Linked DNA regions of Homo sapiens. The protein of the gene in region 1 interacts with the protein of each later gene in a pairwise test. Each region holds a gene or a part of one and is shown on either strand. Other genes may lie near its edges. The genes, in order: ELOVL4, FAXDC2, TMEM254, SYNDIG1, TMEM11, CMTM7 and FA2H.

What was found.
Region 2: the proteins of ELOVL4 (region 1) and FAXDC2 interact in binary tests that used the Homo sapiens proteins (3 or more experiments, as listed by UniProt).
Region 3: the proteins of ELOVL4 (region 1) and TMEM254 interact in binary tests that used the Homo sapiens proteins (3 or more experiments, as listed by UniProt).
Region 4: the proteins of ELOVL4 (region 1) and SYNDIG1 interact in binary tests that used the Homo sapiens proteins (3 or more experiments, as listed by UniProt).
Region 5: the proteins of ELOVL4 (region 1) and TMEM11 interact in binary tests that used the Homo sapiens proteins (3 or more experiments, as listed by UniProt).
Region 6: the proteins of ELOVL4 (region 1) and CMTM7 interact in binary tests that used the Homo sapiens proteins (3 or more experiments, as listed by UniProt).
Region 7: the proteins of ELOVL4 (region 1) and FA2H interact in binary tests that used the Homo sapiens proteins (3 or more experiments, as listed by UniProt).

What each region holds. Positions count from the first base shown.
Region 1 is NC_000006.12:79,916,319-79,920,392, forward strand, and holds part of ELOVL4 (very long chain fatty acid elongase 4), read right to left. Parts: intron 3,230-4,074; coding exon 3,102-3,229; intron 566-3,101; coding exon 290-565; 3' UTR 1-289. UniProt on the Homo sapiens protein: Catalyzes the first and rate-limiting reaction of the four reactions that constitute the long-chain fatty acids elongation cycle.
Region 2 is NC_000005.10:154,830,008-154,834,081, reverse strand, and holds part of FAXDC2 (fatty acid hydroxylase domain-containing protein 2), read left to right. Parts: intron 1-3,159; coding exon 3,160-3,281; intron 3,282-4,074. UniProt on the Homo sapiens protein: Promotes megakaryocyte differentiation by enhancing ERK phosphorylation and up-regulating RUNX1 expression.
Region 3 is NC_000010.11:80,081,579-80,085,652, forward strand, and holds part of TMEM254 (transmembrane protein 254), read left to right. Parts: intron 1-61; coding exon of another isoform or gene 62-163; intron 164-262; coding exon 263-366; intron 367-566; coding exon 567-626; coding exon of another isoform or gene 627-630; exon of another isoform or gene 631-639; intron 640-4,074.
Region 4 is NC_000020.11:24,545,726-24,549,799, forward strand, and holds part of SYNDIG1 (synapse differentiation-inducing gene protein 1), read left to right. Parts: intron 1-143; coding exon of another isoform or gene 144-146; exon of another isoform or gene 147-2,904; intron 2,905-4,074. UniProt on the Homo sapiens protein: May regulate AMPA receptor content at nascent synapses, and have a role in postsynaptic development and maturation.
Region 5 is NC_000017.11:21,204,066-21,208,139, reverse strand, and holds part of TMEM11 (transmembrane protein 11, mitochondrial), read left to right. Parts: intron 1-4,074. UniProt on the Homo sapiens protein: Plays a role in mitochondrial morphogenesis.
Region 6 is NC_000003.12:32,447,029-32,451,102, forward strand, and holds part of CMTM7 (CKLF-like MARVEL transmembrane domain-containing protein 7), read left to right. Parts: intron 1-2,425; coding exon 2,426-2,524; intron 2,525-4,074.
Region 7 is NC_000016.10:74,764,335-74,768,408, reverse strand, and holds part of FA2H (fatty acid 2-hydroxylase), read left to right. Parts: intron 1-4,074. UniProt on the Homo sapiens protein: Catalyzes the hydroxylation of free fatty acids at the C-2 position to produce 2-hydroxy fatty acids, which are building blocks of sphingolipids and glycosphingolipids common in neural tissue and epidermis.

The DNA.
Region 1 (4,074 bases):
GACAACTGGATGTGAACAGGGGGAGAATCCCCAAAGTCACTTAATGATTGCTTTGGTCTGGAGAATATCAAGGCTAATTTTTAAAAAAAATGTTTAAAATAAAAACTTCATAAATAAAACATCTGGGTATGGTATTAACACTTTACTCAGTCTAAGAGTTACTAGGACATAGAGCACATTTGTCTTTTCTCCCCACCCCCAAGCTCTCCTTTGCTTCTGTTTTCCCTGAAATTTTATATGATATGGGAGTTTTTCCTCACTGTCAACAACAGTTAAGGCCCAGTTCAATTTAATCTCCTTTTGCTTTTCCATTTTTCTGCTTTTTTCCATTTTCTATCATGAGTTGTTTTTCTGATTTGCTCACACCATTTGCTGAAATACCATTCATGGCTGTTTTTCCAGCTTTTGGTTTCTTAGGCTCTTTGTATGTCCGAATGTAGAAGTTAAGAAAGAGAAATATGAAGCTGATTGCATAGGCAATTAGAGCCCAGTGCATCCATTTGGGGAAGGGGCAGTCAGTGTAAAGAGACAGTGCCGTGTGCCCAATGGTCACATGGAATTGAATCTGAAAAACAGAAATGACAGCACAAAACATTTAATCTGAATAGTAAACAACTTTTAACAACATCGGCATCTTCTACATAGCTATCACAGGCCCAAATTTTGCCACACTGTGCAAAATTTATTGTTTTCTGGCTCCCATGGCTAGCTCCTCATTCACAACTCAAATGCCATCTCCTCAGTAAGGACTCTCTGACAAGACTTCAATTTCAATTGGCCCTCCCAATCCCATTAACCAAAGAGCTTTCTGCATTTTTTTTAAGGAGAATTATACCTATTTGAAATTGTCTTCTGTATTTGTTATTTCTTTATTGCCTATCTTTCCACTAGAAAATGACTCTAGAAGGCAGGGCTTTGTCTTGCCCATCGGTGATTCTTGAGTCCTCAGCACAGCATCAGGATCAATGAATATGTGTTGAATAATGTTATCTGATGAAAGGGAATCAATGGCCTAGGAGAGTAAAGTAATAGTATTGTAGGCTCTTCAATTTTGTTTTCCTCCCACATTTTACATTGGTTTCTTTCTATCAAATTGTCAGCAAGCAGATACACATACTTAAAATGAGCTTATCAAAATGGCTCATTTATTTCTTACAGATAGTAGGCAGGTAAATTTTTATTTGAACGAACACTATCCTTTAAAAACTAATATTTTGATGGCCAGGTGCGATGGCTCATGCCTGCAATCCCAGCACTCTGGGAGGCCGAGGCGGGTGGATCAACTGAGGTCAGGAGTTCAAGACCAGCCTGGCCAACATGGTAAAACCCCATTTCTACTAAAAATACAAAAAATTAGCCAGGTGTGGTGGTCCATGACTGTAATCCCAGCTACTCAGGAGGCTGAAGCAGAAGAATAGCTTGAACCCAGGAGGCGGAAGTTACAGTGAGCCCAGACTGCACCATTGCACTCCAACTTGGGCAACAAGAGCAAAACTCCGTCCCAAAAAAAGAAAAAAATAATATTTGGATAAAATTTAGTAGATATTTCAGAATAAATACAAAAAGAATCACTTTCAACTTTAAGAATTTTTAAAAGGAAAAAAGCCCAAAGTGAGATGATTAAAATGAAATAGATTCTGATGTATCAATAAAAGAATGGGTCAAGACATAATGTTAACAAGGGTTAACTTTTTATACAATTAACTTATATGACTAACTGTTGTGGGAACTTCTGGCTTGGAAATACAAACTCAACATCCTGTTTGAAATGGACAATTGTGGTTTCTCTTTTAAGGATAGCATTGTTCTTAAAATATTAATTATTGATTAAAATAATCAGTATTACTTATTTTAAATATTAAAATAATGTATGCCATGTAAGCTAAAAATTTATACTATATTAAACTTTTATAATTTTCCTTGGCAAATATTTTAATTTGAAGAACTTGTGGTTTCACAATGGTTTTTAGAAGCTGCATCACCAAAAAGGGTGTGTATAAGGGTGTGATTGGGTATGGCATCACTCAAGGAGAGCCAGGTGTAGGCTCCAACAAACCAGATAGGACTAATTCACATGATTTTGATCACCTCTTCATTTTCTTAGGTCCATTTACTACTTACTGAGAGAAATGAATTACACAAACTGTGTTAACAGCTTTTACACAAAAACTGGAGGAAGCTTCCTATACCACTCCGGTTACAAATGAATCCTTCGCACCCAGCATTTCCCAAAAGTTGTGCTTCCTGTTTGGTTAGCCAGCTGTTTAGCAACTTAAAGCAAAGATGAATATTATTTCCAAATGTGATTCCACTGATAAAATTGTGCACATGCTATGATTAAAGCAAATTATAATAAATTCTAAAGCTTGAAAAATAGTTACCAGGTTGGCTTTGAATTTCCAGTTTGATTACAGGCTAGTGCCTAGCATCTGAAAGGTACACTAATGCACACACTCAGATTGCCACAAACAGTCTTACTAGCGGGATGTGCTGAAAACTGTCTGGACTAAAGACCACCATTTGAAAATATCTGTCTCTGCTCTCTTAAGGACAGTGTTTTAGAGAATTACAAGGAGTTCTCTTGCCCTTATTCCCTTCCTTTGCCCCACCCCTTCCTTGGCTATGTGCTTTCTTTTCAGCTGTTTAGTCTAAATATATGAGATATGTTAAAGACTGAAAAATGAAATAAAAAACAAAATTTTTAAGCAAGGACAAGATGAAGAAAGGTAATAAAATTTTAAGTTAAGAAAATCACCTGTAGGGAAAAAATACATATTATTTTTCTATTCATACTACGTACTTTGTAGCGTGCTTAGATCTTTAATCATCCTTTCCACAAACATCTTTAGAGAATGTTTTCCTTAGAGGAGTAAGGGCTATGTCTAGTCTTTTAAGCATATTATAAAAACAAAGATTTGCTGGGACCAATAAGTCTATGAATAGGTCATCTAGAGTCAAGTGGGCATAACTGCGATATAGCTGGAGGATAAAGTTAATTTCATAATAGAAAATTGTCTAAAATGACATTGCACTTTAAAATTAATCAAATTTAAACAATTTCAGTATTTTACCAGAAGAAACTTTGGAAGCATTTAACTCACCAGTTGCAACATAGTCAGGTATCGTTTCCACCAAAGATATTTCTGAATCCATGGGCCAAATGCAGTTAACCCATAGTATGAGTACATAATCACATGGATAAAGGAATTCAACTGGGCTCCAAAAAATGCTTTAGAAAAACAACAGGTAATTACAAGATACAGAAAATTTTATTAGGCAGTAAGCCACTGAGATGTACAATAAATGAATACACATTATTTTTTAATATTTAATCTTGAGTACAGATTAGAAATGAAAAATATAAAGTAGTACTAATGAAAAAGTTTTCCCTTCAGATTAAGCTAGATATTTTTAAAGTTTAGATTTGAGGTTTTACCATATAAATAAAAATGTATGTTCAAATGCAAAGGACTTTCACAGTTGTAGGTTTTCAAATGGAGTACTCCAGTGAGCTTAAATAGGCCCTTAGAACTGTTGCCTATGTTACTTTTAATTCTACTATTCTTGCCTTTAGATGTGCCAATATATATATCTGCAACAAAACAGTACTTATTTCTTAGGTTTCTAAATAGTTTAAAATATGACAGCACTACACACATTGAATAATTCATTTAATATAGATAAATCTACAGAGATATTCCAGTCAGTCAAACTCAATGACATTCTTTCTTTTCAGAATATTAATTTAATCAAGGTATAGATGTAATAATAATTAATTTTTGTCATAAAGTGATCTAAGTCAGTTCAGATTTACTAATTTTCTTTTAAAATTACAGAAGTTGCCTTTAACTGTATTGTTTTAAACTGGGCCCCCAATAATATATGTATGAATTCCTAAGCTGCCAATTATCATAATATGACAATGGAAAGCAGCAAGGTGAACTATACTATAATGACTTGTACCCTGGATCCTCCTCAGAGGAATAATCTGCATCAAGCTCAACAATGTGAATCATCCTTAATCTACAGGCATCTGAAAAGACAGGAGGCAGATCTTGGCCAAGCTATGAATTT
Region 2 (4,074 bases), on another chromosome or scaffold:
TTAATATATATTATATATAATATACATTTATTTATATTATTAATATGACATATAATATATAATGTTACTATGTGCTACACTTGTATCGAGGATATAGAAATATTTAAGATGGGAGGCCAGGCGTGGTGGCTGACGCCTGTAATCCTAGCACCTTGGGAGGCTGAGGCAGGTGGATCACGAGGTCAGGAGTTTGAGACCAACCTGGCCAACATAGTGAAGCCTCGTTTCTACTAAAAATACAAAAAAATTAGCTGGGCATGGTGGCAGGCTCCTGTAATCCCAGCTACTTGGGAGGCTGAGGCAGGGAGAATCACTTGAACCTGGGAGGCGGGTTGCAGTGAGCCAAGATCATGACACTGCACTCCAGCTGGGCGACAGTGTGAAACTTCGTCTCAAAAAAAAAAGAAAGAAAGAAATATTTAAGATGGGGCTGGGCACAGTGGCTCACGCCTGTAATCCCAACACTTTGGGAGGCCAAGGCAGGTGGATCACTTGAAGTCAGGGGTTCGAGACCAGCCTGGCCAATATGGCAAAATCCCTTTTTCACTAAAAACACACACACACACAAATTAGCTGGGTGTGGTGGTGCGTGCCTGTAATCTCAACTACTCAGGAGGCTGAGGCATGAGAATTGCTTGAACCTGGGAGGCAGAGGTTGCAGTGAGCCGAGATGGTGCCACTGCACTCCAGCCTGGGCAATAGGGCACGACTCTGTCTCAAAAAAAAAAAAACAAAAATTAAGATAGGCCAAGATTAGTGGCTCACACCTGTAATCCCAGCACTTTGGGAGGCTGAGGCAGGCAGATCACTTGAGGCCAGGAATTCAAGACCAGCCTGGCCAACATAGTGAAACCTGTCTCTACTAAAAGTACAAAAAATGAGCCAGGCGTGGTGGTGCGTGCCTGTAATCCCAGCTACTCAGGAGGCTGAGGCACAAGCATCGCTTGAACTCAGGAGGTGGAGGTTGCAGTGAGCTGAGATAGCACCACTGCACTCCAGCCTGGGTGACAGAGCAAGACCCTGTCTCAAAAAAAAAAAAAGAAGTATTTAAATGAAATGTTTCCCTCCCCCATTAAAAAATGATGTCATAGTCTAGAAGGGAAGATAAAAAGTGTCAGTTGCTATAAAGCAAAATGCACCTGAGGATTGTTTTCAACTAGAAGGAGGACTCTGACAATGGGCTGAACATTAAATATGACAGATTTAATGGGATCTTAAGCAGTCATTGAACAATGCAGATTACCTATGTATATGGAGAAGGTGGTAGAAAAACTTTATTAGCTTGAACCTGCAATCTAAAAAAACCTCAAATATTTTATATATGTTAGGTACAATCCTGTGAAAATTACCTATTACCTTGGTGATAAGCCAATATGAGAGAGAGAAAATATTTCCAATTTTAAGTGTTAGAGCTAGAAGAAGTTTAAGATCGTCTTACGGTGTGCTTTTCATCTGTATTCCTCAGGCAGCCTTTGAAGTTCCAAGTAGGTAGACACCTTGGATGGCCCACTGGGTAACCATCAGCCTTTTTTTTCCAAAGTAAAAAATAGTTTATTTTTTCTGGGTATAAAAGTAAATATGGGCCAGGCGCAGTGGCTCACGCCTGTAATCCCAGCACTTTGGGAGGCCGAGGCAGGCGGATCATGAGGTCAGGAGATCGAGACCATGGTGAAACCCCGTCTCTACTAAAAATACAAAAAATTAGTCGGGCGCGGTGGCGGGCGCCAGTAGTCCCAGCTACTCAGGAGGCTGAGGCAGGAGAATGGCGTGAACCCGGGAGGCAGATCTTGCAGCGAGCTGAGCTCACGCCACTGCACTCCAGCCTGGGTGACAGAGCAAGACTCTGTCTCAAAAAAAAAAAAAAACAAAAGTAAATATGTGCTCATTGTTAAAAATAAAAATCAGGCAATTCAAATAAGCATAGAAAGTGTGAAAATCACCCACTGTCTTACCTTCAAGAAATAACCACTGTTTATATATTAGTGTGCATCTTTTATATATTGGGTATATAGTTGTACTTATGAGATACCAACTATTTTTAAATCTTTTTTTCATTGAATAGATTGTAGGTATCTTTCCATGCCTATTAATGTAGCCTTACTTAATACTCTAAGCTTCCCATTCTATTCCATTATATGGAAATACTCTAATCTGTTTAGTCCCTTCCCTACTAATGGGTATTTAGGCTGCTTAAATTTTTTTTTTAATGCTGTGACGGACATTTATGCATACAAACAGACGTGTGTCCTTTTCTTCTTTCTCCCTTTCTGTCTTGGCTCTCTGACTCTCTCACTTTATTACTTCAGTTACTGCCAAATTGCCCTCTAGAAGGTTTGTACCAATCCTACTCCCCTACAGTGCTGGCAAGTATTTTCCAAGTCCCAGCCGCCACAGTTACTTCGGTTGATGGAGCATGAAGGGTGCTGGTGGAGGGGCACAGACATGGAATTAAGCAAAGCCGAGTCCTAGCTGGGCATGGTGGCAGGTGCCGGTAGCCCCAACTATTCAGGAGGCTGAAGCAAGAGGATCACTTCGGCTTGGCAGGTCGAGGCTACAGTGAGCCATGATCACACAACTGCACTTCCAGCCTGGATGACAGAGAGAGGCTTTGTCTCAAAAAAACAAACAAACAAACAACAAAAAAAAAACAACGATGAGTTTTCCACTTATACTGACTAGATGACACCTGAAGTTCTGCTGCTCAGTTAGTAGGATGACAGGGATTAAGTTTCCTGACTGACTCCTAGCCCAGGGCTCACTGTGACCCATACCATACAGAGTACTTCCTTTGCTTCTCCTTCCTTGGCAATTCATAAAGGGTTCAGTGGGCGCAGACTCCCAAATGTCAACCTGAATTCATTTCTATTTTAGAGGGTATTATATATCTTAACATACTTTCATATGTATTTATATGAAAACCACCAACCACCTTGAAGGTTGTCCCTATTTTATGGCTAAGAAAATGGAGACACTCCTTAAATGGCCTGTCCAAGTTCCTACCCAAGACTACAGGTAACCCCTTGGTCCCAAGCCCTAAGACCTCCCTGGCAAAGAAATGTCTAGGATGAAGCCTCAGTCACCACAAAAAAGTATGTTCTGTTAGTCTATGTGCTGTGAGAACCCAAAGTCGCCCTGACTGTTTCTGTTTCCCAATCTCAGGTGCCATCCAAGTGCCTTGTCTCTTCTTCTGGAGCTTCAATGGGCTTCTATTGGTGGTTGACACAACAGGAAAACCTAACTTCATCTCTCGCTACCGAATTCAGGTCGGCAAGAATGAACCTGTAAGTGTTGTTGCAACTTCTGGTCAAAGCACAGAAAGCAAGAGCCAAAGCCACACTCTCAGAATTCTCACCACTGGCCCAGGAGAGACCTGGCCAGTGTGAGCCAAGTTATTAGCAACAAGGCTCCCCCAGTTTAGAAGGTTAAAGAGAGGAAATAATTTGCCCACAACCTCAGAGTCACTCAGCTAGTGGCCAGTCAAGACCAGTGTTCTGGTCTCTTGATTCCTGGCCCAGGCTCTGGACCTGCCTGTGGTGCCCCATGGCACTGTGGTCAGCCTGGCACTGAGAAGGCAGGCAACTCCACTTTACCCATAGGAATGGAGACAGCAATGGGTGGATGCTAGAATATGGGTAACAGCTGTTGTTATGAGAGAGGGAGACAGCTGCGAAAACAATGGATAACTCCACTGTAATAGACGGATAGTATGGATTCTGAATGTGTGGGCGGTGGCTGTCTTTTAAACAAGTTCTCCTTCCGAAATACTCAATTCGACCAATAGTGAAAGGCACCAGGGCAAATCCATGATAAGTGAGGCCCAGACCCTGCTTACAAGGAACTCTGACTTGCACAGCGCCGGGAAGTGGGTCCCACTGTTCCCTGAGTCTGGCTCGCCTTTTCCTACACAACAAGGAAGAAGTTGATTCTGAAACCCAGGTTCTTTACCCAGCTCCACCCAAACCACATCCTGGCTTCTTTCCCAGACAAGACAATCATCTTTTAGTCATCTGCCCAGGTGTCTGGGTGAACCACCTCAGCTCTCAGGTCCTTTTGCCCCAGCCCAGCACTCCAGAA
Region 3 (4,074 bases), on another chromosome or scaffold:
GATGGATTGAGCCCAGATGGTGGAGGCTGCAGTGAGTCATGATCATGCCACTGCACTCCAGCCCCAGCAGCGGAGTGAGACCCTGTCAAAAAAAAAAGAAAGAAAGAAAATAGAAGCCAAGAATGGAGACCCAAATGACTGTTCAGAGTTTCTTCGGTCTGTGGTAATTTTTTTACTGTTTCACAGCCTTTCTCAAAAACAAAAACAAAAAACAGGTTTTAAGTGACCTAATAGGTATTCTGTGTCTCTGCTTCTCTTTCAGTGGGTTGTCTTCTGGCCTCAGAGTATCCCTTATCAGAACCTTGGGCCCCTGGGCCCCTTCACTCAGTACTTGGTGGACCACCATCACACCCTCCTGTGCAATGGGTAAGGAGAGCTGCACAAGTGGACTGTGGACACTGGAGCTCTGGTCTCATGGGAAACCTGGAAGGCCTGCAGCTGCCTTTTGGTATCTAAGAGTAGTGTCGGTTCACCTTAAGGCACTTTTCTTTTTGAGATTGCTGTGTTAGATTTCATCAGCAGATAACTATCACCTTAAAAAAGATTAACCTTTTTTTTGGTTTCAGGTATTGGCTTGCCTGGCTGATTCATGTGGGAGAGTCCTTGTATGCCATAGTATTGTGCAAGTAAGTCTTTGAAGTAGGTGTTTGTTGCCTTTCTCTTAGTAGCTAATATAAATTGAGAGCAGCCACATTTAAATAGTTCACACACTTGTAGGCTGAGAATATTCTCAGGGTAGAGCGGAATCCCCATGCCTGATACTGAGCCTGGAGCAGAGGCAGTACCCAGTAAATGTTTGATGAATGCATTCATTTTGTTTATGTTGGTTAACCAATTACTTAGTTATCTAATTCAGATGACTTTTGTTATTTTTTAACAAATTTTCTGGGTAGCCCCAACTAGATCAAAAGACTAGGAATAGGAGCCTGGCTTCTAGTTTACAAAAGAGCTAAGTGACTGACCTAGGCCGATGACTCACAATCCTCGTTTTACAATTGAGCCACCTGAGGAGCTTTTTCAAAATACACACGTCTGGTTTCCAGACCCAGAGATTCTGATTGGGTAAGTCTTGCCTCAGAGATAGGAATGTGCTCTTTTTAAAAGCTCCACAGATAATTCTAGGATGCAATGCTAGTTAAAAGCCCCCAAACCAGACCCCACTCAGGAGATGCTAGTATAGGTTAATGCTATGTGAGAATACAAGAAAAAATTATGTTTGTACTTTATATAAGCATATACAGAAAGTATGGTACAATGAAAAACATGGTTATGGAAATGCCAAATTGCTTCTTTCCAATTAATTTCTGGTCAAGATAATAATTAATTGAATTAATTTCTGGTCAAGATATACTATCACCTCTATTATTTTTCTATTCTAAAAGTGGAAAATAAGATACTGTATTGCTATTACTATGTTTCAATAATAAAAATAATATTGATTGGGTACTGCTATGTCAGAGACTGCTAAGTATGTTAAATAGAATGATCTTACTCTGTTTTCTTGTTTATTAAACAAATAAGCTAGACTTTTTTTTTTTTTTTTTTTGAGAGGGAATCTTGCTTTGTCACCCAGGCTGGAGTGCAGTGGCGCAATCTTGGCTCCCTGCAATCTCTACGTCCTGGGTTAAAACGATTCTGCCTCAGCTTCCCCAGTAGCTAGGATTACAGAAGCCCACCACCATGCCTGGCTAATTTTTGTATTTTTATTAGAGACGGGGTTTCACCATGTTGGCCATGCTAGTCCCGAACTCCTGACCTCTCAGGTGATCCGCCTGCCTTCGCCTCCCAAAGTGCTGGGATTATAGGCATGAGCCACTGTGCCTGGCCACAAGCTAGACTTTCTATGAAGAGGAGCAGAAAGTAACTTTATTCTTTCTTTCTCACCCCTCTCCAAGTAAATTTGTTTTGTAGATCGTTCCCCACCTTCCACCGTATCTCTGGATGGAATTTCAAACAGATCGTAGGATTTCCAGTCACCATCTGATATTATCTATTCTAGCCCAGTCTATTGTTAAAACTATAAACTTTCTTCTAATTCAAAATGTCTGTTTTCATCCAGCTGGGGCTCAGGAGCCTGCAGTGGGGAGAAGGGTGCAGTTGATATCTTCTCTTGCACTTCACCTTCTCCTCTATTCACTAATAATCGCTGCTTGTGGTCCCTTGGGATAGTGGGAATAGTTAGGGAGAACAAGGCTCAGCCTTAAATAGCTGCTGCTGGCCAGGTGCAGTGGCTTACACCTATAATCCTAGCACTTTAGGAGGCCAAGGTGGGCAGATCATTTGAGACCAGGAGTTTGAAACCATCCTGGCCAACATGACAAAACCCCATCTCTACTAAAAATACAAAAAATACTAAAAAAGCCAGGCATGGTGGTGCGTGCCTGCAGTCCCAGCTGCTCAGGAGGCTGAGGCACGAGAATCGCTTGAATCCGGGAGGCAGAGGCTGCAGTGAGCCGAGATCGCACCACTGCACTCTAGCCTGGGTGACAGAGCAAGACCCTTTCTCAAAAAAAATAAAAGTTAAAAAAAAACAATAAACAGCTGCTGCCTTGTGATCAGGCAGCTAGGTACTGTGTATATTGCATATCCAGTATTGGCTCTTTCTCTCTAGAGGGGATGTGGTAGATTTTTGAGACACTACTCATCACCAGGGATCTCCCTTCTGCAGTTTCCTTGATGGTTCATTCAGACACCCCCTCCAGCATGCCACTTGCAGTTTCACCCTCAGAGTCTGTGTTCTAGGGAGAATTACCCTTTTATTGAGATCACTTCCGTCCTTCAGGTGGGTCTGTGGTACAGGGTCCCTTTTAAACCTACTCATGTTCAGTGCCTTCTCCAGGATCTGTATGGCTCACAGTAAACAACTTCCGTATCCCTCCAGTGGGATAATCTACAAGTGCATGCAGTTATCAGTGTGGCGGTGCTTCCTTCTCTCCCAGCAAGCAGACCAAACAGTGTTTACTCTTTGGAATCAGATATTAAACCCTTCCCCAAATTCCAGAGACTCATGTCAAGCTCTACAAATGGTTCTGTTGAGGCCATTCTCTGGGCTTGACTTGTGGGAAATGCCACAGCCCACTAGGACCTCTTTCCAATGGCCTCTGCAGCATCGCAGTAGAATCTCAGATTGGAAGTGTCCGGTCCAGCCCCTCAACTTGGAATGTAGGAGTGCGTGACACCTATTTTGTTGTTGGCATTTGGAGTATCTGATGAAAACCAAAATACAAAAATTTTTATTTTTATTTTTATTTATTTTTTTCTTTTTTGAGACGGAGTTTCGCTCTGTCGCCAGGCTGGAGTGCAGTGGTGCAATCTCAGCTCACTGCAACCTCTGCCTCCCTGGTTCAAGCGATTGTCTGGCCTCAGCCTCCCAAGTAGCTGAGATTACAGGCGCCCGCCACCAAGCCTACTTTTTGTATTTTTAGTAGAGACAGAGTTTCACCATGTTGGCCAGGATGGTCTTGATCTCTTGACCTCGTAATCCGCCCACCTCGGTTTCCCAAAGTGCTGGGATTACAGACGTGAGCCACCGCACCCGGCCCTCAAATTTAATATACAATTTTTTTGAAGGGCAGAGGGAGAACAGGCATAGAGGTTAGGTTACTCTTATGTTCTTGAAATCATTTATGGTCTAACATGTTAGAATGTATCATTAGTCACTATGAATCAGAATAAATATTCCTTTTGAATTATGAGATGAGTTGGGTACGGTGGCTCATGCCTGTAATCTCAGCACTTGGGGAGGCTGAGGCAGGCGGATCACCTGAGGTCAGGAGTTCGAGACCAGCGTGCCCAACATGGTTGAAACTCTGTCTCTACTAAAAATATGAAAAAAAAAATTAGCTGGGTGTGGTGGCACATACCTGTTACCCCAGCTACTCAGGAGGCTGAGGCAGGAGAATCGCTTGGACCTGGGAGGCGGAGGTTGCGGTGAGCTGAGATCGTACCACTACACTTTAGCCTGGGCGACAAAGTGAGACTCTGTCTCAAAAAAAAAAAAGACAAGAAAAAGAAAGTGCCATTTTTGGTGAGGTGAGGGGGCAAAAAACCTTTTGCTATTTTGGTAGATTAAAA
Region 4 (4,074 bases), on another chromosome or scaffold:
GGGGAGGTAACCTTTCCCACCCAGTCCTGCTTCTCTGATCTAGCAGCAGAAGTGGAAGCCCACCAGAAACAATTCTTTTAATAATACAGCAATAAGAATCTTTAGTCATAATAACGGTGCCTACTCTGTATTAATATTTCTAGTGACTTTTGAATATAACGTAAGATGGAGCATGTTGGCATTTATACTAAAGTAACATCGATGAAACAGCAAGTTGTTTACTTAGGCACTTTAGTGAGACTTTCTGGTCGGCTTCCAAGGAGCTCACCTGGACCAAGAAATGGCCCCTTCCACAGGCTCTGAGCAGAAGGAATGGAGACACATTATGGCTGCTGCTGCTTCTACATGCGGCTCAGGATGCCAAGGAGGATTTCAGAGCCTCACCACGGTGGTTAACTTCGTCCTTTTTCTCTGAAAACAAAGATTTTCTCAGAAACATTCTTACAGTATAGCTATGGTGCTTTTCATTCCCTTCTTCGGTAATTAACAAAATACTAATGACTGGTTAGAAGTGTCATTGAACATGCAGTAGCTGTTCTTTGGTTTACTGTTTTCTCCATTCCATTAAATAATAAAGGGTCATGTATTGGTTAGCATTTGCTGCATAACAAATCACCCCCAAAACACAGTGCCTTAACAACTCTTTCTTCAGCTTATGATTTCTGAGGGTCGGCAATTGAGCTGGGCTCAGCTGGGTGATTGTTCTGCTGGTCTCACCTGGGCTCACTCACTTGTCCATAGCTAGCTGTGATAGGCTGGGAAGCCAGCCTCTGGTGGGCTGTTGGCTGCAGTGACAGAGGTAACTGCATCACCCAGCTGTCACCCATCCTGTCCCAGGCTTCATTTTGCGGCAGCCAGAGAGGTGGGGCCCACTTTGTGAGGGCTTGTCAAGTCTTTGCCTGTGTCCTGCATGTTACTATCTCATTGACCAGAGCAGGTCCCACAGCCAAGCTCAGTCAGTGTGGGAGAGACTGCTTAGGGTCACAATATAGGGAAGTGATAACAAATTGGGTGCCAGTACTGCAACCACAGAGCCAAAAACCATAGACTTTTGGCATCATTTTTTTTTTCAGATGGTCTAACTGAACAGAATGACAACTACTGAAACAAAAGAACAGTGAATACTGATCTGAGCTCTTTCCAGAAGGCAGTTCTACTCAGCCAAAAAAGAAAAAAAAATGTGATTTTTAACTTCTTTGAGTATTGTATAGCTTCACTTGGTTTATAGCAAATGGATACTGTTTCCCAAATAATGCCGTTTTCAAAAAGCCATTGCCCTGGTTCAGAATGGGGCCCCCTCATTGCCCTTGTTCAGAGGGGGCCACCTCATTGCCCTTGTTCAGGGCCCCTCCCATTGCCCTGGTTCAGAGTGGGGCCTTCTCATTGTCCTGGGTCAGAGCAGGGCCCCCTCATTGCCCTGGTTCAGAGCAGGGCCCCTCGTTTCCCTGGTTCTGAGCGGGGCTCCCTTGCTGGAGCTCCTGGGCACTGGGTGGCTGGCTGTGTTTTCCCCAATCACTTTCCCAAGACAGGTGCATCCCTGGCATTTATGAAGGAGCCTCTCCAGGTCCGAAGAGGTCGGCCTGTCTGACATATGTTTGCAAGGGCATGTGGAGCGTTCAGTTTGCCTTCGAGGTTGTGGTAGTAACAAGAACAGGTTCTATGGCTAACTTTGAGAATATTTATGGGAGGTTCTCAACTATTCGGCAAGTGTTTATGATCTGTCCTGCTCCACCTTAAGTCGCCAAGTAGAGCATGGCTTGACATTAGACAGGTAGATGTAGGGGACCTCTGGGGCTTTGCGGGAGTGCAGAGGTGCCATGCCGCTCATTATCTAGTGCCACTGCGCTCAGGGTGACAAGACAGGCATCCTGTGGGGGTGCCCTCAGGGCATCCTGGGTAGTGATAATTGGGCCTGATGTCCGACAGCCCAGGCCTCTTCCCAGGTATGTGAACACTGCTTCATCCACTTCCCAGCCAGTAGCTAAAAACTGCTGTCTCTGGGAATACCAGCAGTGGGAAGCCACTTCTCCTTTCACACAAATAAACTCAGAGAGACTTCAGGGACAAGTAATGAAGTAGGTCTACAAAATATACAATTTGAGTTTACAGCCATGAAATGAAGTGGATGGAGTCCAGGTGCAGAGGCCTGACCACCCTCCTGCCCTTAGAGATGGTGACCAGATGTTGAATGGCACTTACCTGTGGCAATGCAAAACCTCTCAGACCTGAAGTACATGACGGTCACCACCTAGAAGCGGTGCCCATGGGGGCTGAGCCTTTTCTTCACTGAAGGAAGAAGGGGGAAGGGAACGCTCATCGATGGAGCACCTTTTCTGCCACGCCCTCCAAGTGCACTTGGCCATCGAATCCTCGAAGCGCTTGGGGATGGGTCATGGTGCTGTCCTCATCCTACACGTGGAGAGACAGAAACTTGGGGTGTTTCCAAGATCACACACGTGGCTCTGCTGTCAGCCCTTGGATCTGAGACAGATCTCCTGACTTTAGACTCTGTCTCCTCATGATGATGCTGTTCTTTCTACATTAGGGGGAAAAATGTGTTCCAGTAAACTTCTGTTTCAGCATTATGCCAGAGTCCAAGGACAAAGCAGGAAGAGACGGCACCAGGACTTCACTTCTGTGAACTCTCCGCCAAGCTTTCCAAGGCCTTCCAGTCTGTCTTCCCATGTAAAAACTTGAAAGCTGTTGGAGGACACAGAATTCTATAACTGCAATAGAGCACTTTACATATACCTCAGTCATAAGTATGGAAAGAGGGGCGAGGACTCAACACACATGTGAAGAAAACCCAAAAGCATGAATGAGACAGAACAACAACAAATAGAACAGTTGACCCAGAGGAAAGAGAAAGAGTTCAGAAAATAATAAACAGCATTTTGAAAATTATTTTTAGTATCTCCAGAGAGATTTGAGGTGCTGCTGATTTGGGTGGAAGGAAATTTGGGGGTTTTGTTTTGCTCATTTGTTTGTTTACCTCATAGCACTGGCCAGAACCTCAAATACATTGTTTAGTGTGAGTGAACGAACATCCTTGCCTTGCTCCTGATCTTAGGGGGAGCTTTTAGCTTTCATGATGAAAGGTGATGTTTTTGTAGTTCTTTGTAGACACTCATAATCAGGTATAGGAAGTTCCCTTTGTCACTACTTTGTTGAAGAGGTTTTTTATTTTATTTTTTATTTAATTTTATTTTTTAATAGACAAATAAATGGGATATTCATATTCATGGGGTATATAGTGATGTTTTGATACATGTAACATATGGTGATCAGATCAGGGTAATTAGCATATTCATTATCTCAAACTTTGATCATTGCTTTGTGTTGGGAGCATTCAATAACCTCCTCTTAGCTATTTGAAACTGCATAATATATTATTTTTCAACTGTTTTCATGCTACAGTGCTGTAGAACACTGGAAGTTATTCATATCTAGCTGTAATTTTGTATGTTTTAATACATCTCTTCCTATCTCTCCCTTCCTCCTACTCTGCCCACTCTCTACTATTCTTCCTTCTACTTTTACTTCTATAAAATTAACTCCTTTTAGCTTCCACGAGTGGAACATGCAATGCTTAACTTTCCCTCCTGACTTATTTCATTTAACATAATGTCCTCCAGTTTCATCCATATTTGCTGCAAATGACATAATTTCATTATTTTTTTATGGCTGAATAGTATCCTGTGGTGTTGAAATGGGAGAGTTCCCTGATTCCCCTTGCAGGACGTGGGGTGGGTGTGGTTCACCTGTTCTGTTGCTGCTCAAACCCCTTGCAGGACTGGAGCATGCAGAAGGGCAGGTGCAGAGGCTGGGGCGAGTGCTTTATGCTCTGGCCTTGCAGTAGTGTCTAGGGGTGGGTGACTGCAACCCCACTGTTACAAAGCTCTTTCAGCTTTGCTGTCCACAGACGGCTTGAATACTAACAGGCTCAATGGGCCCTTTGCCTTTTCGCAAGGACAGAGGGCTGGATCCAGAGCTGTTGCCCAGCATCCTGGAAAAATCAGGTCACATACGGGCTTGAAGGATGAATGTGAAGTTTTTTTGAGTGGTAGAGGTGGT
Region 5 (4,074 bases), on another chromosome or scaffold:
TTGCCTGTAGTCCCAGCTACTCTGGAGGCTGAGGCAGGAGAATGGCGTGAACCCAGGAGGCGGAGCTTGCAGTGAGCCAAGATCACGCCACTGCACTTGAGCCTGGGCGACAGAGCGAGACTCCGTCTCAAAAAAAAAAAAAAGAAACACTTTTTTTTAAAAAATATAGAAAAGCATGAAGAAATTGACAAGTCACCTATTAGGCCACCATCCAAAGAAAACCACTGTTGATCTATTTTCTTGTTTCTTTTGAGACAATGTCTCGCTCTTGTCCCCCTGGCTGGAGTGCAGTGGTGTGATCTTGGCTCACTGCAACCTCTACCTCCTAGGTTCAAGCGATTCTCCTGCCTCAGCCTCCTGAGTAGCTGGGATTACAGGCGCCTGTCACCACACCTGGCTAATTTTTGTATTTTTAGTAGAGACGGGGTTTCACCATGTTGGCCAGGCTGGTCTGAAACTCCTGACCTTAGGTAATCCGCCCGCCTCGGCCTCCCAAAGTGCTGGGATTACAGGCGTGAGCCACCGCGCCTAGCCTGATCTATTTTCATGTATAGCACCTTTGATACTTTGTCTTATATATCTTGCCTTAGGGGTTTTTAAAATTATATTATTGAGACGGACTCTCACTTTGTCACCCAGGCTGGAATGCAGTGGTGCAGTCTCGGTTTACTGCAGCTTCTGCCTCCGGGGTTCAAGCGATTCTCCTGCCTCAGTCTCAAGTAGCTGGGACCACAGGCATGCACCACCACGCCCAGCTAATTTTTGTATTTTTAGTAGGGACACAGTTTCACCACATTGGCCAGCCTGGTCTTGAAGTCCTGACCTCAGGTGATCTGCCCACCTCAGCCTCCCAAAGTGCTGGGATTACAGGCGTGAGCCACCATGCCCAGCCTTATCTTAGATTTTTTAAAGTTATATGTTAAACACATCAAAAGTTATGTTTACAATATGTGAAAAGTAATAAACATGCCACAGCATGATGGCCCTTAAAAACATAATGCAAAATGAAAGAAGCCAGTTGTTGAAGACCACGTTACAGGATTCCATTTAAATGAAATACCCAGAATTGGCATATCCAGAGAGTTGGGAAGCCGACTGGTGGTTGTGGAGGGCTGGGGAGATGTGAAGGGACCACTAATTGGTACAGGGTTTCTTTCTGAGATGATGAAAATGCACCAGGATCAGTTGTGCTATTGGTTGCACAACTTTGGGAAAGCCACTTCATCGTTCACCTCCGATGGGGGAGTTGCTCTGTGAATTCTATCTCAGTAAAGCTGTGAATTCTATCTCAGTAAAGCTGCCATTAAAAAATACAAATCAGGCCAGGCATGGTGGCTCATGCCTGTAATTCCAGCATTTTGGGATCACCTGAGATCAGGAGTTCGAGACTAGCCTGGCCAACATAGAGAAACTCTGTCTCTACTAAAAATACAAAGTTAGCTGGGCGTTGTGGCACGTGCCTGTAATCCCAGCTGCTTGGGAGGCTGAGGCAAGAGAATTGCTTGAACCCAGGAGGTGGAGGTTGCAGTGCTCCGAGATTGTGCCACTGCACTGCAGTCTGGGTGACAAGAGTGAAACTCCGTCTCCACAAAATAAATAAACAAATAAAAATAAAGAAAATGAGACCAGGTACAATGGCTCTTACTTGTAATCCCAGTGCTTTGGGAAGCTGAGGCTGGCAGATCACTTAGGAGTTCGAGACCAGCCTGGCCACCATGGTGAAAACCCTGTCTCTACTAAAAATACAAAAATTAGCTGGGCGTGGCAGCACATGTCTGTAGTCCTAGCTATTTGGGAGGCTGAGGCAGGAGACTCGCTTAAGCCCGGGAGGCGGAGGTTGCAGTGAGTCGAGATAGCGCCATTGCGCTCCAGCCTGGGCAATGGAGCGAGACTGCCTCAAAAGAAAAGAAAACGGAAAATAACAAGTGTTGGTGAGGATATGGAGAAATGGGAACCCCTGTGCGCTGCTGGTGGGAATGTACAATGGTGCAGCTGCTCTGGAAAACAGTATAGAGATTCCTCAAAAAAACTAAAAAATTGAACTGCTATATGATCCAGCAGTTCCACTTCTGGGTATATATACCCCCCCCCCAAAAAAAGCAGGGACTCAAAGAGATGTTTGTGCACCCATGTTCATAGCAGCATTATTCACAATAGCCAGTGGTGGAAACCGAAGTGTCCATCACAGATGAATGGATTAACAAAATGTGGTTTATGCATACGGTGGAACATTACTGAGCCTTAAAAAGGAAGAAAATTCGGATACATGCTACAATATGGATGAACCTTGAAGACTCGTTATGCTCTGTGGAATAAGCCAGACACAAAAGGGCATATACTATATATGATCCAACTTGTATGAAGTACTTGTATAGTCAGATTCATTGGGGTAGAAAGTAGAATGGTAGTTTGCAGGGGCTTGGGGTTGGTGGGGAATGGGGGGATCATTTCATGGGTAGAGTTTCAGTTTGGGAAGGTAAAGGAATCCTGGAGGTGGATGGTGGTGATGGTTGGTACATCAGTGTGCATGTGCTTAGTGCCTCTGAACTGTACACTTAAAAGTGCTTACGGTGGTATATTTTACGTGTATTTTACCACACTTTAAAAAAGGCAAAGTGATAGTTGTGTGGGCTCCCCACCCAGCGCGATAGAGAACTAGCGTTACCCTGGCCTGCCTCCTCCTGCAGCGGAGACCCTGTGCCCCAAGTGCACCACAGCACCCTTGCTGTCCTTATAGTTGGCTTTCAGTGGCACGTCCCTGAGCTCTGCCGCCTTAGAATGTGTGAGAGTTGTATCCCTGGCTCAGGCCACTGGAACTGATTCATGTCACTAATGGAGGAGGTGCGATTCTGCTCTCCCCGCTCCTGTCATCTTTTGCTCTCACCGAACAGTTCTGCTCTGAACCTTCTTGTGCGGCTCTTGCCTTTTGGGGAGACGCCTCCAGACTGTGGCTGCTGGGACAGGCACAGGCTGCCCACATCCCAGAGGGGCCGTGGAGTTGCCCTGCTGAGTTTTCACTGTGGCCGCCTTTTAACTGGAATGCTAGTGTTGCCAGGGGATTCCTTTGCTGACTGCGAGAGCTGATTGAGTTGGGCTCAAAAGTGGAGAGATGAGGGCCTGAAGGCTGACTCTGGTTGAAGGCTGAGGGAGGAAGTTCAAGATGCCCACTTTATGAGTGCCTGCAAGCTATCCTGAGGCGGCAGAGAGCGGTCCCATTCAGTGTCTGCAGCAGTCCCCCTGAGGTGCTGGAACGGGCTGACCCCTGCTCCCAGCACTAAAGGCTCAGAGAATCCAAAGCTTCCTCAGTGCTGGCATGATGTGTTTAGGATCATGACACTGATCCTTTTACTTTTCTTCTTCCATATGTTAAGACCCACTTCCGACAGTGATCTTTAAGTACCAGAGATCATGCCAGATTCAAAAGGATCAAAAGTCATTTACTAGAAAGAGCCTCCCTTCCTTTTCTTTCCTGAGCCCCTCAGTTCCCTCCCTAGTGACCAGTCATAAAAATCAGGTCTTTGTGTATCCTTTCAGAAGTGTTCTGTGCATATAAAAGCAAATAGAGACTTTTAAAAATACACTACGTATAGCATACTGTAAACACTCTTCTGAACCCTGCCTTTTCCCCTGAACTTGCTTTCAGTTGGAGACTTTGCTGTTACTGCTGCTACCTTTTTCTCTTTTTTTTTTTTTTTTTTTTTTTTATTGAGACGGAGTTTTACTTGTTGCCCACGCTGGAGTGCAATGGCATGATCTCAGCTCACTGCAACCTCCGCCTCCTGCGTTCAAGCAATTCTTCTGCCTCAGGCTCCCAAGTAGCTGGGATTACAGGCACGTGCCACCAAACCCAGCTAATTTTTGTATTTGTAGCAGAGACAGGGTTTCACCGTGTTAGCCAGGCTGGTCTCGAACTCCTGATCTCAGGTGATCCGCCTGCCTTGGCCTCCCAAAGTGCTGGGATTACAGGCATGAGCCACTGCACCTGGCCACTTTTTCTTTCTTTTTTTTTTTTTTTTTAAACATAGACTCTATTAATTGCTCTCTTACTGGTCATTTCACACCTGCAATGAAAAG
Region 6 (4,074 bases), on another chromosome or scaffold:
CTTCTCCTTTAATATTGGCATTTACAGCTATAAATCTCCCTCTGATAACTGTTTTACTTGTATTCCATAATTTTGGTATATTGTGTCTTCATTTTCATACATCTCCAGGTATTTTCTGATTTCTCTTATGATTTTTTTTCTTTGATCCATTCATTATTTAGGAATATGTTGTTTAATCTCTATATATTTCCCTGATTTCCCTCTGCTCTTGATTTCTAATTTGATTCCATTGTGTTCAGAGAACATATTTTGTAGTCCTTCTTACCTTTATTGAAGTTTGTTTTATGGTCTGATATATCGTCTATCCTGGACAATGTTCTGTGTACATCTGAGAAGAATGTACTTTTATACATTGTATATTTGTATATTATACTTTTGCTGGATAGAGTTTTTATAGAGGATTTTTAGGTCTAGTCATTTTATGGTGTTGTTTGAATCTTCTATTTCCTTGTTGACCTTCTACCTGGTTGTTCTATACATTGCTGAAAGTAGGGATATTGAATTCTCCAACTATTATTTTTGAATTGTCTGTTTTTCTCCTTCATTTTTCTCATTTTTCACTTCATGTGTTTTGGCTCTTTTATTAGGTGCATATACGTTTATAATTGTTATATCTTACTTACGGATTCAGCTTTTCATTGTTATAAAATGTCCCTCTTTATTTCTAGTAACTTTTTTTTGTGTTCGATTCTATTTTGTCTGATGCAGTGTAGACACCCTGGCTTTCTTTTGGTTGTTGTTTGCGTGCCATTTCCTTATCTTTGAATATAAAGTCTCTCTCCCATAGACAGCACATACTGTAGTTATTTCTCGTTTTGCTTTGGTTTTTTAATCCAATCTGACCACCTCTGCATCTTGATTAGATTGTTTAATTGTTCACACTTAACACTATTACCCACTGTTATTTTGAGAGAAATTTCTTTTGTGTTTCTAAGTTCTAAGGCCCCTTTCAAAGTTATGGCATTTTTTTCTGCTTCTTTTGAGAACAAATTCCTCTGGGGCTTACCTGATGCAGATACTGAACAAGCAAAGGAGAGAACAAAAGCTCAGGGACAAGCACAAGAGTGGGCTGCATGAGGAGTGAAAGTTGGAAGGACAGACTCAGCCACACATTTTTGGCTGAGATACTATTTAAGTACTTCCGGTTAGGATTCTCTCAAGTTGGTTTTCTCTGCCCCATGTCATCCTCCTCTGTCTTAATAGTTGAGAATCTTGGAGGTGGGGAACTTGCAGTTACTCATCTGTTCTTCAGTTAAAATCTCTGTGATCTATCTTGTGATATTCCTTTCTAGTCACTAAGGGAGAAACCAGGGTCTTTGATTTTACATAGCTTTGAGAGGAGCTACAGCTTTAAATTGGAATGCTTTTCCAAAATTTAATAGCTGCCTGCCCTAAGGGGCAGAACTTCATGAAGGAATGATTTCTAGATTCTCATTGAAGACAACTGAAAATGGATGCACCCTGGATTCAGAGCAAGCACTGGAAGTGGCCCCCAGCCTCAGTTCTTCTCGGATCTGATGTTTAATGGGGAAGAGAAAGGGTGAGATGGAAGCTTTCCCTCGCCACTGAAAGGCCCATCTCATCCAGGGCCTGCAAGGATGCTGATTAATCATGATGAGTGAGTGGGGTGGAAATGCATGGCCCATGGGCCAAGGCGAGAAGCAAAGGTGGAACCAGTCCTGCCAGTGGATTCATTGGCAGAGCTTGGCCGGGAGGGCACTCTTCTGGAGAAAAGAGAAGAGGGAATGACAGGAAAAAAAAAAAAAAAGGCAGGAAGGCTCAGGAGTGAGAAAGCCAGCTGCCACCACACATCCACAGGCACTTCACAGAAGTGCCACTGACCTCATTCTAGAGTCTGAGTCTGACGGGACCCTGGGAATGAATACCTCTCAAGTCCACACTTGGGGCCATTCACAGAGTGGGCTGACACTCCCATCAGTCACACAAGACCAGCACATTGTTAGCCCAGAACTTTCTCCGAAGCAGAAGAGAAAGGCAAATATCTCTTTAAGGTACTTTGCTTCTCCGAGCTGGAGCTTTGTTTAAACTCTCCAGCCGGGAAGTTGCAAGAAGCTCGTTTGCTTTTTAGTAGCTTTAGCCAGAGGTTAAGGCACTGTCCACAGATTGCTCTCAGGAGTAGAGGAGTCCTTAGTGGCTATCTCTGCTCACACCAGAAGCTTCCTTTCTCTCTGTCCTCTTCCCTTCCTGCCTGCCCGGCATCACTTCTGTCTTGCTTGGCCTCTTCCTGGTCAGCCCGCATGTTGGCTGCCTGCGAGCGGCTCTGCTCATCCCATTTGCGTGTTGCAAGGGAGAAGAGGAAGCGTCACTCTCTCCCTTTCTTTTCATGTCTTCTGATGCCCAGTTGCTCTTCCCGGACCAGAAATGGACGGCCCTACCCACTTATTTGCTTTGTTTCTGCCCCCAGGAACTTCTGCACTATTTAATCGGTACCCTGCTCCTCCTCATCGCCTCCATTGTGGCAGCTTCCAAGAGTTACAACCAGAGCGGACTGGTAGCCGGAGCGGTGAGGATGTTTTGGGGAGCCTTTAGGAATGAATTCTTATTTAAAATGCTCATTTTCTTCCTGATGGGGGAAGAGAAGGGCTTGGTTTCTGGGGCATTCCCTTCATAGAATCAATACCTACCTTGATCCAGCCATCAGCTCTCTCCAAAGAGCCTTAAGCAGAGGCGTACAGTCCCAGAAGGTGGATTGTCAGGGCTGCCAGCAAATTCATAGACCCCAGCAGCCCAGGCCTCTCTCTCTTACAGGCACTACTGAAATCAGGGGGCCAGGCGGGTTTTAATTCACACACCCACTCTGATCATTTGCTCGTTGGCTGCCTCAGCACTATGCAGAGACAGATGCTGGAGCCTCTTTTGGGCCCAGTGGGAAATGTACTGTGATCAATTAGAGATACATGCCATGAGCCTGAGCTTTGCCATTCCTGATTTTTAACAGTATTCAGGCCAGGAAATAATACTCCTGTATCTTTCAGAGGCAAAAATTGATCCATCTGATAGCCATAAATAGAAGTAGATGGAAATATACAAAAATACAGTCCTGTGAGATATATACATACATATATATGTATATACATACAGATGTATATGCTATTTTTTTAAAGATTCATAGATTCCTGTCATCTGATTTCTGATTTAGCTAACTATTTATAGTTCAGTGGCCTGTGGGCCAACACTGATTTGCTTCACTGATGAGCAGACAAGATTTTAAAAATGAGTTTTGAGAAAAGCTCTCTCAAGCCAGATGTGGTAGCTAGCATGCACCTGTAGTCCCAGGCACTCGGCAGGAATGCTTGTGCCCAGGAGTTCGGTCTGGCCTGGGCAACGTACTGAGACCCTGTGTCTTAAAAAAAGAAAAAGAGAAAAAGAAAAGCTCTCTCTGTATGTGACATTCATTGTCTTTCACTTACGTATATTACCAAAATTTTCCAGACTTTGGCCTGGGAGTGGGTTGGCTCCTGGAATTCCACTGAGGGATGGAGTCTCTCCTCTGAAGGTCAGCATGGGGGCAGAAGGTCACTGTAGAGGGTGGCCAAACCTCCCAACACTGATGCTCCACATGGCCCTCCCACAGCCCACCATCACACCTCTCTGCCCCCTCTCTCTGCTGTCTCTGAAGAGAGGGATGGTTGCCCCCTGAAGCTTAACACCTGCCCAGCTACAGTGCAGGGTACTGGAAGAGGCACACAGGAGACCTGTGCCCACTGTGTTTCCGGGCCCACTTGAGGAGATTCCCACTGTGTTTAGTAATTCAGGTTGCACATAACTGTTTAGCCCTGGAATCTCTATAGCTAACATTCATCATATGCTGTCTGTGTGCCTAGGACCAAACCTGGGCTATGAGGAAGTTAGAAGAAATTTTTAAAATATGGTCCCTGCTTATAAGAAAGTGGTCATCTAGCTTAGGAGACAAGACACATGAAACAATTAGTAAACAAGGCGTTGTAGTCTAGAATAGCATTCTGTAGCGATATAATAAACTGTTCAATTATGCAGTGCAGACAGTTGGGGACCGGGATGGTATATAACGTGCTAATTGTGCAGAACAGACAA
Region 7 (4,074 bases), on another chromosome or scaffold:
GGACGAAGCTAGGGCCAGCTGGTGGGGCATCCAGGGCCCAGGTCACTGCAGTTCCATGGCCACCCCAGGGTCAGCACAAGCTCCAGGAGTGCTCTCTGGTGTCACCCCACAATTCAGTGAATAAAGAGGCTTTGAGACCCAGAATTGGGAAGAGGGTCAAAAATTAGGATTCTCTGGAGGAAATAAAAAGAAACAAACAGGATTCCTAGAAATACATGAGAGTAATTGTCTTTGGAAGTATTCCCGGGAAATAACCCAGACTGATGCTTCGGCAACAGCATTCATCATCTTCGCTTATTTTTTTTCTTATGACACATGCTCCTCATTGGTCTGTATGTAGTCTTCATTTATTTAGACAGGTGATAAGCATCCCATGCGCTCTGAAACCCACCACATCACAGAAACAGCCCTTGCTGGCGTTACCAGGACCTTCGCCTTCCTCCACCCGGTGGTCAGTGCTCACCTTACCTTGCATGGCCTGGCAGCAACTGGTGACACCATTGATCACCCTTCCTCCCCTCCAGTACACTTTCTTCACCTGGCTGCTGGATGCCATACCCTTTTAGTTTTCCACCTGAATTCATTTTTGATTGCTTCTCTGGCAAATTATCACAAACTCGGTGGCTTAAAGCAACACACATTTACTCTCTTACAGTTCCAAAGTAAAAAATGAATCTGCAGGGAAGCATTCCTTCTGGATGCTCTAGGGGAGATTCTTTTTTCCTGCCTTTTCCAGCTACTGGAGGCTGCCTGCATTCCTTGGCTCTTGGCCCAGCCAGCAATCTCATCATGCCAGCCTCTGCCTCTGTTGCTGCGTCTCCTCCTACGACTGATGCTCCTACATCCATCTTCCACTTAGAAGTACACTCGGGGTCACACTGGACCCACCTAGATGATCCAGGATAATCTCATCTCAAGATCTTTCACTTAATGACATCTGCAGAGTCCCTTTTGAAAAGTCAGGTAGCATATTCACAGATTGTGGCTCACACACCATCCAGACCCCGGTTGTGACTTCTCAGTCTCCATTGTTAGTTTCTCTCACTTCTCATTTCCCAGAAAGGTGCACAAAGTTTAAACATACAGCTCAGTGATTTTTTTTTTTATGAGTCTCCCTCTGTCACCAGGCTAGAGTGCAATGGCACAATCTCGGCTCACTGCAACCTCCGCCTCCCAGGTTCAAGCAATTCTCCTGCCTCGGCCTCCCAAGTAGCTGGGATTACAGGCACACACCACCACGCCCAGCTAATTTTTGTATTTTTAGTAGAGACGGGGTTTCACTATGTTGGCCAGGATGATCTTGATCTCTTAACCTCGCGATTTGCCTGCCTCAGCCTCCCAAAGTGTTGGGATTACAGGCGTGAGCCACCATGCCCGGCCAATTTTTTTTTTTTAACCTAGGTAAACATCTCTGTTGCCACCACCCAGATCGAGACCTAGAACTCTTCCAGCACCTAGCACAGGCTCCTGCCTCCTCCCAGGCAACAGCGCCTCCCAGAGGCAGCCACTGTTCTAATCTCTATCCCCATAGGATAGTTTTGTGAATCCCTCATGTTTATATGGGCATCATGCACTCTGTTGATGGCTGCTTTCACTCAGTATTATGTCTGGGGTATTATTGATGTTTTTCTTACTCTTCACAGTAATCGTTTCCATTGGCTACTCTGTCCTAGAGAATCCATAGGCAGAGGGAGAAAATGGGGAGTAACTGGAGCAAGAAGAGCCAATGGCTTGGACCACCTGTTGATCTTCAGGAGCCCCCCCCCTTAGTTTTCCTTCTGGAACATTCCCCTCACTTCTGCCCTAGTTTGGCTAGAGCCTCGCTACACTCACTATTGTCGCAGTCTCTTGGGCAGGTCTTCCTCTGTTCCCCATTGTCTCTGAACCTTTCTGAAGAGAACTTGATCATGTTATGGCAGGGCTCCTAAGTATTCAATGGCTCCCTATTGCCATATCCCTTAAGTCCAGCTTGAATCCTCTTTCTTCCACAGAGATTCTCCTTACCTCCTCACCTATATCTGCTTTTTTCCCCTTCACTCAGACTCTCATAGCTCTTTACCTGAACCTATCTTACAGCATTCATAACTTTTTTTTTTTTTTATTGAGACAGAGTCTTGCTGTGTTCCCCCGGCCCCAGGCTAGAGTGCAGTGGCACGATCTCAGCTCACTGTAACCTCTGCCTCCCAGGTTCAAGTGATTCTCCTGCCTCAGCATCCCGAGTAGCTGGGATTACAGGTGCCCACCACTATGCCCAGCTAATTTTTGTATTTTTACTAGAGACAGGGTTTCACCATGTTTGCCAGGCTGATCTTGAACTCCTGACCTCACCTGCCTCGGCCTCCCAAAGTGCTGGGATCACAGGTGTGAGCCACCACACCCAGCAGATAACATTCTTTCTTATTTAACATATTTCCACTGTGGCTCTTGTCTTCCCTATTGTTTTGTCTACTAATCTGTAAACTCCCCAAGGACTGGACTTGTCTAGTTCACCTGGATTTCTCTAGCACACACAGGCACCACTGGTACATACCAATAGGTACTAATAAATATTTGAATGCTCTGGGTATGGGCTCATACCTGTAATCACAGCACTTTGGGAGGCCAAGGCAGAAAGAGAGCTTGAGACCAGGAGTTCAAGGCCAGCCTGGGCAGCATAGTGAGACCTTAGGTCTACAAAAAAATTTTCCAACATAGCCAGGCGTGGTCATGTGTCTGTAGTCCCAGCTATTTGGGAGATTGCTTGAGCCCAGGAGGTCAAGGCTGCAGTGAGCCGTGACTGCACCATTTGTACTCCAGTCTGGGCAGCAGAGTGAGACCCTGTCTCAAAAAAATGAATGAATGAATAAATAAATGTTTGAATAAGTGGATGAATGAGTTGCTTGGAAAACTGAGGTACGTGCATAATTGAAAAGGAAATATTAGCATATGCAAGATACTTTAAGAATGAAACATAGCCGGGCACGGTGGCTCATGCCTGTAATCCCAGCACTTTGGGAGGCCAAGGCAGGCGGATTACCTGAGGTCAGGAGTCCGAGACCAGCCTGGCCAACATGGTGAAACCTCGTCTCTACTAAAAATACAAAAATTAGCCAGGTGTGGTGGCGCATGCCTATAATCCCAGCTACTTGGGAGGCTGAGGCAGGAGAGTCGCTTGAACCCAGGAGGCGGAGGTTGCAGTGAGCCAAGATCGCGCCATTGCACTCCAGCCTGGGGGACAAGAGCGAGACTTTGTATCAAAAAAAAAAAAAAGATTAAGAAAAATCTCTTTTCTGTGTCTTGTTAAAAGGTTGGGAGTTGATGGAAAGGATGGAGAACCATCAAGCAAGTCACTCATTTCTGCCTTTGTCCTCGGTTCTTTGCAGCCGGAGAGAGTTAGCAAAACCTCTCCCTTAGCAGGCTCTTACAGTCTACCCGTCCCATGAGTCTCCTTCAGGGGTTAGAAGTGAAGTTAACCATAGAAAATCTCAATCAAGACCCACATTGCTCTCAGGGTTAAGACCCCCCCAGTCCTCATGTAGCTATAAGTACCTGGGTGACACTCATAGGTATGTCCCAGGTTGCCTGGGTTTCTAGTCCTGTTTACTCTTTCTGGTGTCTTTTCATGCAAAATTCTCTAAAGCACATAGACTCAGAACAGTGGTTCTCAATCTTCTCTAATTGCTCCTATTCTTTTTTTTTTTTTAAACTTCTAAGTTCAGCAATACATGTGCAGGTTTGTTAAATAGGTAAACTCATGTCATGGGGGTTTGTAGTACAGATTATTTTGTCACCCAGGTGTTAAGTCTAGTACCCATTAGTTATGTTTCCTGCTCCTCTCCCTCCTCCTATCCTGCACCCTCGGGTGGAGGCCTCAGGTATCTGTTGTTTCCATCTTTGTGTCCATAAATTCTCATCATTTAGCTCCCACTTATAAGTGAGAACATGTGGTATTTGGTTTCTGTTCCTGACTTAGTTTGCTAAGGATAATGGCTTCCAGCTCCATCCATATTCCCTCAAGGGACATGATCTCGTTCTTTTTTGTGGCTGTATAGTATTCCATGGTGTATATGTACCACATTTTCTTTATCCAGTCTA